2 separate regions of the Homo sapiens genome follow, and region 1 is reported to be linked to region 2. The links are microRNA targets in miRTarBase. Many come from high-throughput screens and were not tested one by one. Region 2 holds a microRNA gene; the other region holds the end of a gene's coding sequence.

The links. Region 2 holds the annotated microRNA hsa-miR-1252-3p (CAAAUGAGCUUAAUUUCCUUUU, at 1,269-1,290, opposite strand). A microRNA usually pairs through its seed, bases 2 to 8, with sites in the 3' UTR of a target mRNA and lowers its output. Matches are read on the target gene's strand: a 7mer-m8 pairs with bases 2 to 8, a 7mer-A1 pairs with bases 2 to 7 and ends in A, and an 8mer does both.
Region 1: miRTarBase lists GTF2I as a target of hsa-miR-1252-3p. Seed matches in the 3' UTR shown: 7mer-A1 at 1,535-1,541.

Annotation. Positions count from the first base shown.
Region 1 is chr7:74,758,437-74,762,815 of GRCh38, forward strand. It overlaps GTF2I (general transcription factor IIi), which reads left to right. Exons shown (of 35, transcript NM_032999.4): 34 at 344-419; 35 at 1,112-2,256. The coding sequence ends at 402. Among named protein-coding and RNA genes, the nearest start is that of NCF1, 13 kb to the right of the region's middle.
Region 2 is chr12:79,416,186-79,420,585 of GRCh38, reverse strand. MIR1252 (microRNA 1252) reads right to left here and starts at 1,329; the gene lies at 1,265-1,329. The region is part of intron 9 of SYT1 (synaptotagmin 1); the gene reads right to left.

The sequences.
Region 1 (4,379 bases), not on the chromosome of region 2:
ATTTGCAGGTTATGCTGTTGAGTGATGACGCATAGCTGCTTTTGCTCCATTTCCCCCAGATGACTTGGTAAATTCTCCGTGAATGACTCTGCTACATAACCTAGATAACCTAACGTGTGTCCTTTAAATGCATGTAAGCCAGAAGATGTATGTTACTTTGAAAACATAAGTAACAAAATTTTGAATGTATTGCTAAAGAGATGTCTCTCTGAAGCTCTTTTGATGTTTGGTGTCTTGTCCTTCTTATTAAACCATATCTTAGTAAATAGTTTGGTACGAATGGATTTATCACTGAGCAGGTCTGCAAAATAATTAATCGGTACCGTTTTGTTTCTGTTGATAGAAATAAAAGAGACTGATGGAAGCTCTCAGATCAAGCAAGAACCAGACCCCACGTGGTAGACCTCTTCCCTCCTAGGGTAAATCAGCTTCTGTGTCAGGGATGCTGTGTGGTGTCCATCTGAACCCCCTGCATACGCGTAGCTAATGTGATCTCCCCACTTTCACATAAGATGGTGGCCCTGCCTTCAGGGAATGTGGGAGCCAGGTGGGAGCCTTCCCGGATATTTAAGCTAGAAGATTCTACAGGGAGATTCTCCTTGGATCAATATATGTCTCTCAGTCAAAGATGTAAAAGCACTTTTGCCTTAAAAAGAATGTTCTGTTTCTAAATAGAGTCAACGTTGTCCTCCTCATTGGAATTCACTATGAGTCAGAATCATTAGACTGACTTTTTTTTTTCCATAGTAATAGTATTTTGCAGAGTCTCACAGAGCTGCAGATCTTTTGTTCATCTTGCAGAGTTAACAAGTCTGATCCTGTTAGTCCAGATTTCTTAAATTTGGCCAAGTTATAATAGGAGCAGTAGCTTGAGACCCGAAGTCAGGAAACTTTGACAATGGATTTTTTTTTTTAATCCAGAGACTTGTACTGGAATTTGCCTTACCCTGTCAGCTCATGGACTTAAGGTTTCATCCCGCTTTATGAGTGCTTCTGAATCCAAGTCATTGTTACCTGAATTTGCAAATTAAGTTGTGATATTCGTGACTGTTAAATTCCTGTAATTAGATTAACCTCTTTGCTTGCTTGTTTGTTTTCTCTCCTATTTTAGCTTAAAGTATCAGTGGTTGAGAAGAGCTTTTCGGACCTGTTACTACCCCAAGCTGTGTAATATACTTGTATAACAGAAATACCTTCTATACAAACCTTTTTTTCTACTTTTAGATAGAAATGTCTACTTTTTCAGCAGTTCTGTGAATTAAAGAGCAGAGTGACTGTGGGTCTGGAATGGCTGGTGTACTTGGGAATGTACTATCAGGATTTTACAGCAATGCTGGGAAATGACAGGGAAAATGACAGGAATGAATCTCACCAGATTTTTTATGTACTCAGCAGAGCCTTGAGTTACGGTGTTTATTTTCCAATCAAGTGAAGATATCTCCTACTTCTCCTACTGGAACATCTCAGCTTCTGCAGTGAAGAAAAATTCCTGTGATAGTTCAGTTCTTTAGTTTTTCTATTTGAAAAAAAAAAATCATTTAAATGATCCTTTGTTCACGGCTCTCCTTAATGACTGAGTGAACAGTTCCTATCTGTATATTTGACTAAACCTTTTCCTAAGCTATCTCTCATGGTTCCTATGTTTTTTTATCATAATTAAAAGCAAAACCATCTGGATCACCTAACAGTCAGAGGTCAGTATCTCAGCGTGTGAATTATAGAGGAAATACAGAGAGAACCTCTTCCACTTTTACTTTTCGTCCAAATAAAATGCATGGTGTACCAGAAGTTGAAGATCGGGTTGAGGATTGGGGCTAGCTCGATGACACTAAGGCCCCAACATCGCGGGACCTGCTGTGGCGCGGATTCTTAGGAACGCTGTTCTAGCCGGCCCCCTCTCCAGGGGTCGCCGTGGCCGGCATTATTTCCTAGTTCTTCTTGTAACCCTGAGGTGCCAGCGCGGGGAGTGAGGAGGGGTCAGGGGGCTAAGGATGCAACCTCTGACGTTCTGCGCCTTCCTAGGAGAGTCTTACATGTGTTGAGATTTCACAAGCAATGCGAGTTGTAAAATACCAGCTCTACAAGAAGCTAGGCTCTGTGACGGCATAGTTTTCAGTAGCTTTATCACAATATTCACAATGGAGAATTATATGACATGGTAGCAGAAATAGGCCCTTTTATGTGTTGCTTCTATTTTACCTCAAATTGTAGATATAGGGTAATCAATAAAATCCATCCATGCCTTTCACACACTAAGTCATTGCTCTCTCGGCTGTTTTCATGGTCCTGTCTGGGGAAGCTTGGGGGTGGCTCGGCGTAGGTGGGACGCAGACCAAGGCCGAGGCTGGCGCTGGGCAGAGCCCGCCGGGCCTCCCGGGGACAGCGCCACTTGCGGTGTTTCTCAGACCGCTGCTGCCCATCTCCTCTGAGCGGGCCAGGGCCCCCACCCTTCCATCTGGGCCATGCCAGCTGTGTATGGAGAGCCGCTCACATACGACATTGGGTGCCAAAAGCCCCTGCCATCGAGAGCTCATGCAGCAGTCCCTCCTGCCTGAGCCCACACACTGACTCTGAGGCTCTTCTGTTCTCAGCGTGGTCCCTGCCTCTGCCGTGCCCTATCCGCGTGTGCCAGAAAGGGAAACTGATCTCATGATTCACCTGCCTGCTAACCTGGGAGGAGACTGCTTCTCTGATAGCATCTCACAGTTCTTTTAACATGTTCTTAAAATGTGTCCTGCCGCACCACCCTCAGCCACACCTCCCAGCACCCATCCTGGAGAATCAGGGCCATGGCAAGGCTGCCGTTGGCAAAAGCCCAGCTCTGCCATGAATCTCCGTTCAGTTACTGGTTTCACACTCATTTGTGAGGTCACAGACTTGCCAAGGATATTCATGATTCAATCCATTACAACAATTCTGTGTGTACATAACACATTTTTTCCTTTCTTTTTTTTTTTTCCTGAGACAGTCTTGCTCTGTTGCCCAGGCTAGAGCACAGTGGTGCAGTCTCAGCTCACTGCATCCTCCACCTCACAGGTTCAGGCAATTCTCCTGCCTCAGCCTCCCGAGTAGCTGGGATTGCAGGCACCCACCAACACACCTGACTAATTTTTGTATTTTTAGTAGAGACGGGGTTTCAGCATGTTGGCCAGGCTGGTCTCAAAATCCTGGCCTCAGGTATATACACATATTTTTACACACACACACACACACACACACACACACACACACACATAAAGGATTTAAGCCAGGTGCTGTGGTGTACAACTGTAGTCCCAGCTACTAGGGAGGCTGAGGTGGGAGGATCACTTGAGCCACTGCAGTGATTACACCACTGCACTCCAGACTGGGTGACAGTGAGACCCTGTCTCTTAAAAGAAAAAAGAAGAGGCCTTAGCTGCCTGCATTAATTAATGAACAGGCAGTGTATTTCTGTTCTTTTTTTTTTGAAGACGGAGTCTCACTCTGTTGCCCAGGCTGGAGTGCAGTGGCGCAATCTTGGCTCACTGTAACCTCCGCCTCCTGAGTTCGAGATTCTCCTGTCTCAGCCACCCCAGTAACTGTGATTATGGCCACCTGCCACCACGCCCGGCTAATTTTTGTATTTTTAGTAGAGACGGGGTTTCCCCATGTCGGCCAAGCTGGTCTCGAACTCCCAACCTCAAGTGATCCACCTGCCTCGGCCTCCCAAAGTGCTGGGATGACAGGTGTGAGCCACCAAACCCAGCCTCAGGCAGTGCATTTCTAAAAGGCAGATAGTGTGATTGTTCAGAGGGTGAAGGGGAAGTTAAACTTGTCCAGTAAAATCTTCGTTAGCCCGGTATTCTGGATTGAAAAAGCAAAATATAGTTCAAGTAGGTCTCTTCAGTGTATCTAATAAGCTCTTGTTTCTGAAACAACTGATTCCTTGGCCGGGCGTGGTGGCTCACGCCTGTAATTCCAGCACTTTGGGAGGCCAAGGAGGGCAGATCACTTGAGGTCGGGAGCTCAAGACCAGCCTGGTCAACATGGTGAAACCTCGTCTCTAGTGAAAATACAAAAATTAGCCGACTGTGGTAGTGCACACCTGTAATCCCAGCTACTCGGGAGGCTGAGGTAGGAGAGAATTGCTTGAACCTGGGAGGCGGAGGCTGCAGTGAGCCAAGATCACACCACTGCACTACAGCCTGCGTGACAGAGTGAAACTCTGTCTCAAAAAAACAAAAACCTCCTGATTTTTTTTTTTTTTTTTTTTTTTTTTGAGATGGAGTCTGGCTCTGTCGCCCAGGCTGGAGCGCAATGGTGCGATCTCGGCTCACTGCAACCTCTGCCTTCTGGATTCAAACGATTCTCCTGCCTCAGCCTCCAGAGTATCTGGAACTACAGGCGCCTGCCACCAC
Region 2 (4,400 bases):
TCAGAGGACAGAAGTGTGCCAGGAATGTGGAATGAAAAAGCTGGAGGTAACTTTCAGCTTTGAGATAGTGTTATATTGTCTGTCCTTCTAAGATACTGCCCAGAGCTGACTGAGGTGAGAGAGTGGGTTGAAGAGTAACTGAGGTCAAAGGATTTCAACCAGTAAAGAAGGGAGGGACCCATAAACTGGAATGCAGGTATAAGATGCAGCAATTACCAGGATATGCTGCCCTCTTCAGGGTTTTTAAGGGAAAACTCACCAGTTAAAATTGGCTGAACATTTAAAAGTCTAACAGTGCCAACATGGCAAGGATATGAGCAATAGGAAAGCTCACACACTTCTGGTTGGGGTGTTATTTAATACATCTAGGAAATTTAAAAATTGTGCATACCCTACATTCCAGCAATCCCACTCTTATGTAAATATCTAGAAATACTCACCCACATTTGCACAAGGAGCTATGTTGTATTGTCTGTGACAGCAAGAGATTAGAAACAATTCAAAAATCCATTAGCTGACCAACTGGGGTATTTACCTACCATGGCATGTTATACAGCAATAAAAAGTAACAACGTTACTTTAATCAACACAGATACATCCCAAGAATGAAATATGGAGTCAAGTTGCAGAAGGATATATGATACAATTTATATAAAGCTTGAAAATGCACAAAATACATACAGTAAAGTGCCATTTATATGGCTGAAAACATACAAAACCAAAACTGTGTGTGTCATAAAAACATACATTGGAATGACAAACAAAATGAGAAAACAGGGTTGGGAATCATAAATTCAAGGTAACAGTTACCTCTGAGGAGAGAATGAGAGAAAGGAGATAAAGAGGACATAGGCTATTTTGATTATAGATGTTAGGTTTTATTTCTTTAGTGTGATAGGTACAAGAGTCTTCATTATATTATTATTTATACTTACTATTGTAGACCTCAAATATTTCATTAAAAAAATTGAGGTACTCCGAGTCAGATTCAACTAAAATGTATGAAGCACTTGCCATGTAGATAAAGCAGTGCTTTTCCACATTGGGCAGTGTAACAGCCAACACTGGAGAAGTCTATGCTTAGAAATGTAATTGAATCCCATTATCTGGCAACTTCTGCATTGTACCCTCAGATCCTTTGTTAGCCAGTGTGATCCCACCTGACCTGCTGCCGGATACTGTGAGCTTACCACTATGACTGATGAATTCATGGAGAAAGGGTGCAGTGGAAGGAGAAGAAAAGCAAGGTAGATTATTAAGATTTAGAAAAAAGGAAATTAAGCTCATTTGGAATTCTCTTTTCTAAATGAATTCAATTTCCTTCTTTCTACACCTCACATTTTTTCTCAACTTACCAATTTCTCAACAACTGTGTGATGGGAAATGTGAGTAGAAATTTAAAAATTCTTATAGAATCATTAGTCCCTTCTACATAGAGAAAAGGCAAAACTTTCTATTGGTTTCGTTTTGCCTAAAATAAGTAAGACTCAGTGGTCAATTAGTGGGATGTGTAAGCTGAAGTTAGATGTTCACTTCTGAGGCACCTATAGGGGAAGAAGGTACTACCCTCTATCAGTGGTTGTTAACTCTGGCTTCACAGTATAATCACCTGAGTTTTAAAATCTACTGACCCCTTGGCCATTCCCCCAGAAATTCTGAATTAGCTGTTCTGGGGTGGGGCCTCAGGTGTTCATATTTTACAAATATCACTTCCCAGGTGATTCTAACGTGCATACAGCATTGAAAACCACTCTTATCTCTCGGGCTCTGATATACCTGATATTGAACACATTTCAGGGCCATTGGTTACCACGGTTGGAAGAGTTACTGCTGGCCTTTCTTGTCAAGTTCATGACATGATGGGAGAGACCTTGGACAGATGTTTGTTTCCACTAATTGTCTCTCTACTCAGACATCTTTAAGACTTCTTGCCCAAACTCTCTGCTGGAGAATATTCTCTGTGCCTTGGCTCTTTCTTCATTCTTTTGTGCAAGGCCAGGTGTTTTGGAAACAGGCAGGGCTGTGCTATGCAGTGGGGGTGGTGAAGTCACCCACAAGGTCACAAAGATAATTGGTTTACTGTCTAACAGGTTCGGGCTCTTCAAACTCTTGGCCAGCCTCTTGACTTACATGTTGGTTAAAAGAATCATAAATCAATTACTTTTAAGCCTCCCCCTAACCAAAACCCCATTGGAGAGATTGTCAATAACATAAAGAAAAACCACGAATTTGAGAGCTAAAAAGTTAGTGTAACCTTCCATCCAGTGGACATTTTTAACAACACCTTATGAAATGATCATTCGGGCACCAAGTGAAAAATTTTCGCTAATTTCCATGCAAAATACTTCTAGGAAATTCCTATACATCTGGACCAAATGTTAGCGCTGGGACTACAAGGAGCAGCAGTCACTGTTCCAGCCCTTGATGATGGACAAGTGATTACAGGGACAGACCTATAACCAAGTAATTAAATAAGACATGAGACATCTAAGAAGACCTGTACATGTTCTATATACAAGTCATAAACATTAGAAAGAGGACGCTTTGTGTAGATCAGCTTTGCAGGAGAGTTTTTCACAGAGGGAGTAACGGTAGAGTAAGGTTTTTCAGCTTTGTCTTCAATATGTGTTCCCAGCATTGCCTGGGAACTGATTAGAAATGCAGAACATCGGGCCCCATCTTAGGCCCACAGAAGTAAAGTCTTTTTAACAAGATTCTCAGGACATGATATGCAAAAGAAAAACAGAAAAGCACAACTTTAGAGGTTCTCCAGGTTGAAGTGGGGGGTGGGAGTGGGGGGATACTATGATGACAGTTCAGGGAGAGCACTGACACCCACAAAACCTCCCCTGTGTGAATGCATAGTGTTATTACTGCTGGAGCATAGGGTAAATGATGCCATTTACAAGTGATGCCATTTGGAGAGGCAGGCCTGGACCTTGTCATGAAAGGGCTTGCAGAGCATTCTAAGGAATTCGAATTTCATCATGAAGGTAGTGAGAAGCTAATTAAAACCAATTAAATATTTTAAACAGGAGAGAGGCATAATGAGATTTTTGCTTTAGGATGAGGCCATTGGTAGTAACGTCAAGGCAGGAGCCAAGGGGGCTGGGCTTTGAGAGGCTGTTGTCATCAGTAGAGAAGTGGTGAGGGCCTAAACCAAGGCAGGTTGCGGGAAAGGAGGCAGAGGTGGAGATAAGAGAGAGATTTAGGAGGAATGAGCAACAGGGCATATTACTACATGATATTCCACATTTCCTTAAAAATCCTTTTAGAAATACATTGTATGCAATTGGATGAAGAGAAACCAACCACCTGGCCACCTAAGCAATCAACTAGCAAACAGAAAACGCAAACTCTCAATCACCAAATCCTAAATAAAAGTACAATTTAAGAAAATATGATTAGGAGGAAGACACAGGTTTCAATGACAAATTGTAAAAGCAGGGAAGACTAAATGAACATGTTCATTGTTTCTTTGTTTTTTGCTACCTCAAATTTTCAGAGACACTTTTGATAACTGACAATTGATACATGCTTTGCAATTCAGAGTAAGTTACAAATATATCATTGTTAGATATTATAGGAATCTTGAAGAAGAGAAAACACACACACACACATATTAGGATTTTCGTTGTATTTTTGCTATTTATGACTACACAGGGCTTCAGTTTTCTTACTGGCCAAAAAAGAAGCTATTCTTTTATGTTTCCTTGAAAGTGCAATCATTTTTAAGAGTATATTGTACCTTTTATATCTTCTTTCTTTATCAATAGTGTATAATAGAACTTGTTCATCTCAAATTTTCCTTTCAAAGCAGAAATGCATTTCAAATAGTTTGCTGTTTGAAATATTAACATGGCTGATTACTTTTTACTCATTCTTTTAGCAAAAAAATTAGACTTAGCCTTTTCTTTCCATTCTTAGGTTTTAATCAACAATACAAATTATGTATGAGAAGCCTTAGTGTATTATTAGCTGAGTTTTTTAAAAGATATTTGACAAAGCCCAAAACTAAATTACCAATGCTCGCATTTTTCTGAGTCATATTTTTTAATCTTTGAAAAAATAGTGATCATCTGTTATTTTACTACAATAATATGAATATAAACCTAAACTCTATTTAGAAGAGGATCTATACATAAAATGTCAAAATGTTAATGCCAATAAGGTTGTATGTTTCTAAGAAGCATTTGGACATGAAATGAAAATGGCAAAGATGTTCAACTTTTTGTTTTTGCCGTCTGGTCTTGCTGCCATCATTTCCTAAGGGACTTCCAGGCAAATATCTACCATACCTTTTGTTTCATGATCATATGACTGTGATCATGTGACTGTGACACCGTTTCTTATTCAATTCCCTGAACTTGTTTCTCTGCCTTGCCTTGTTTCTTTCTATC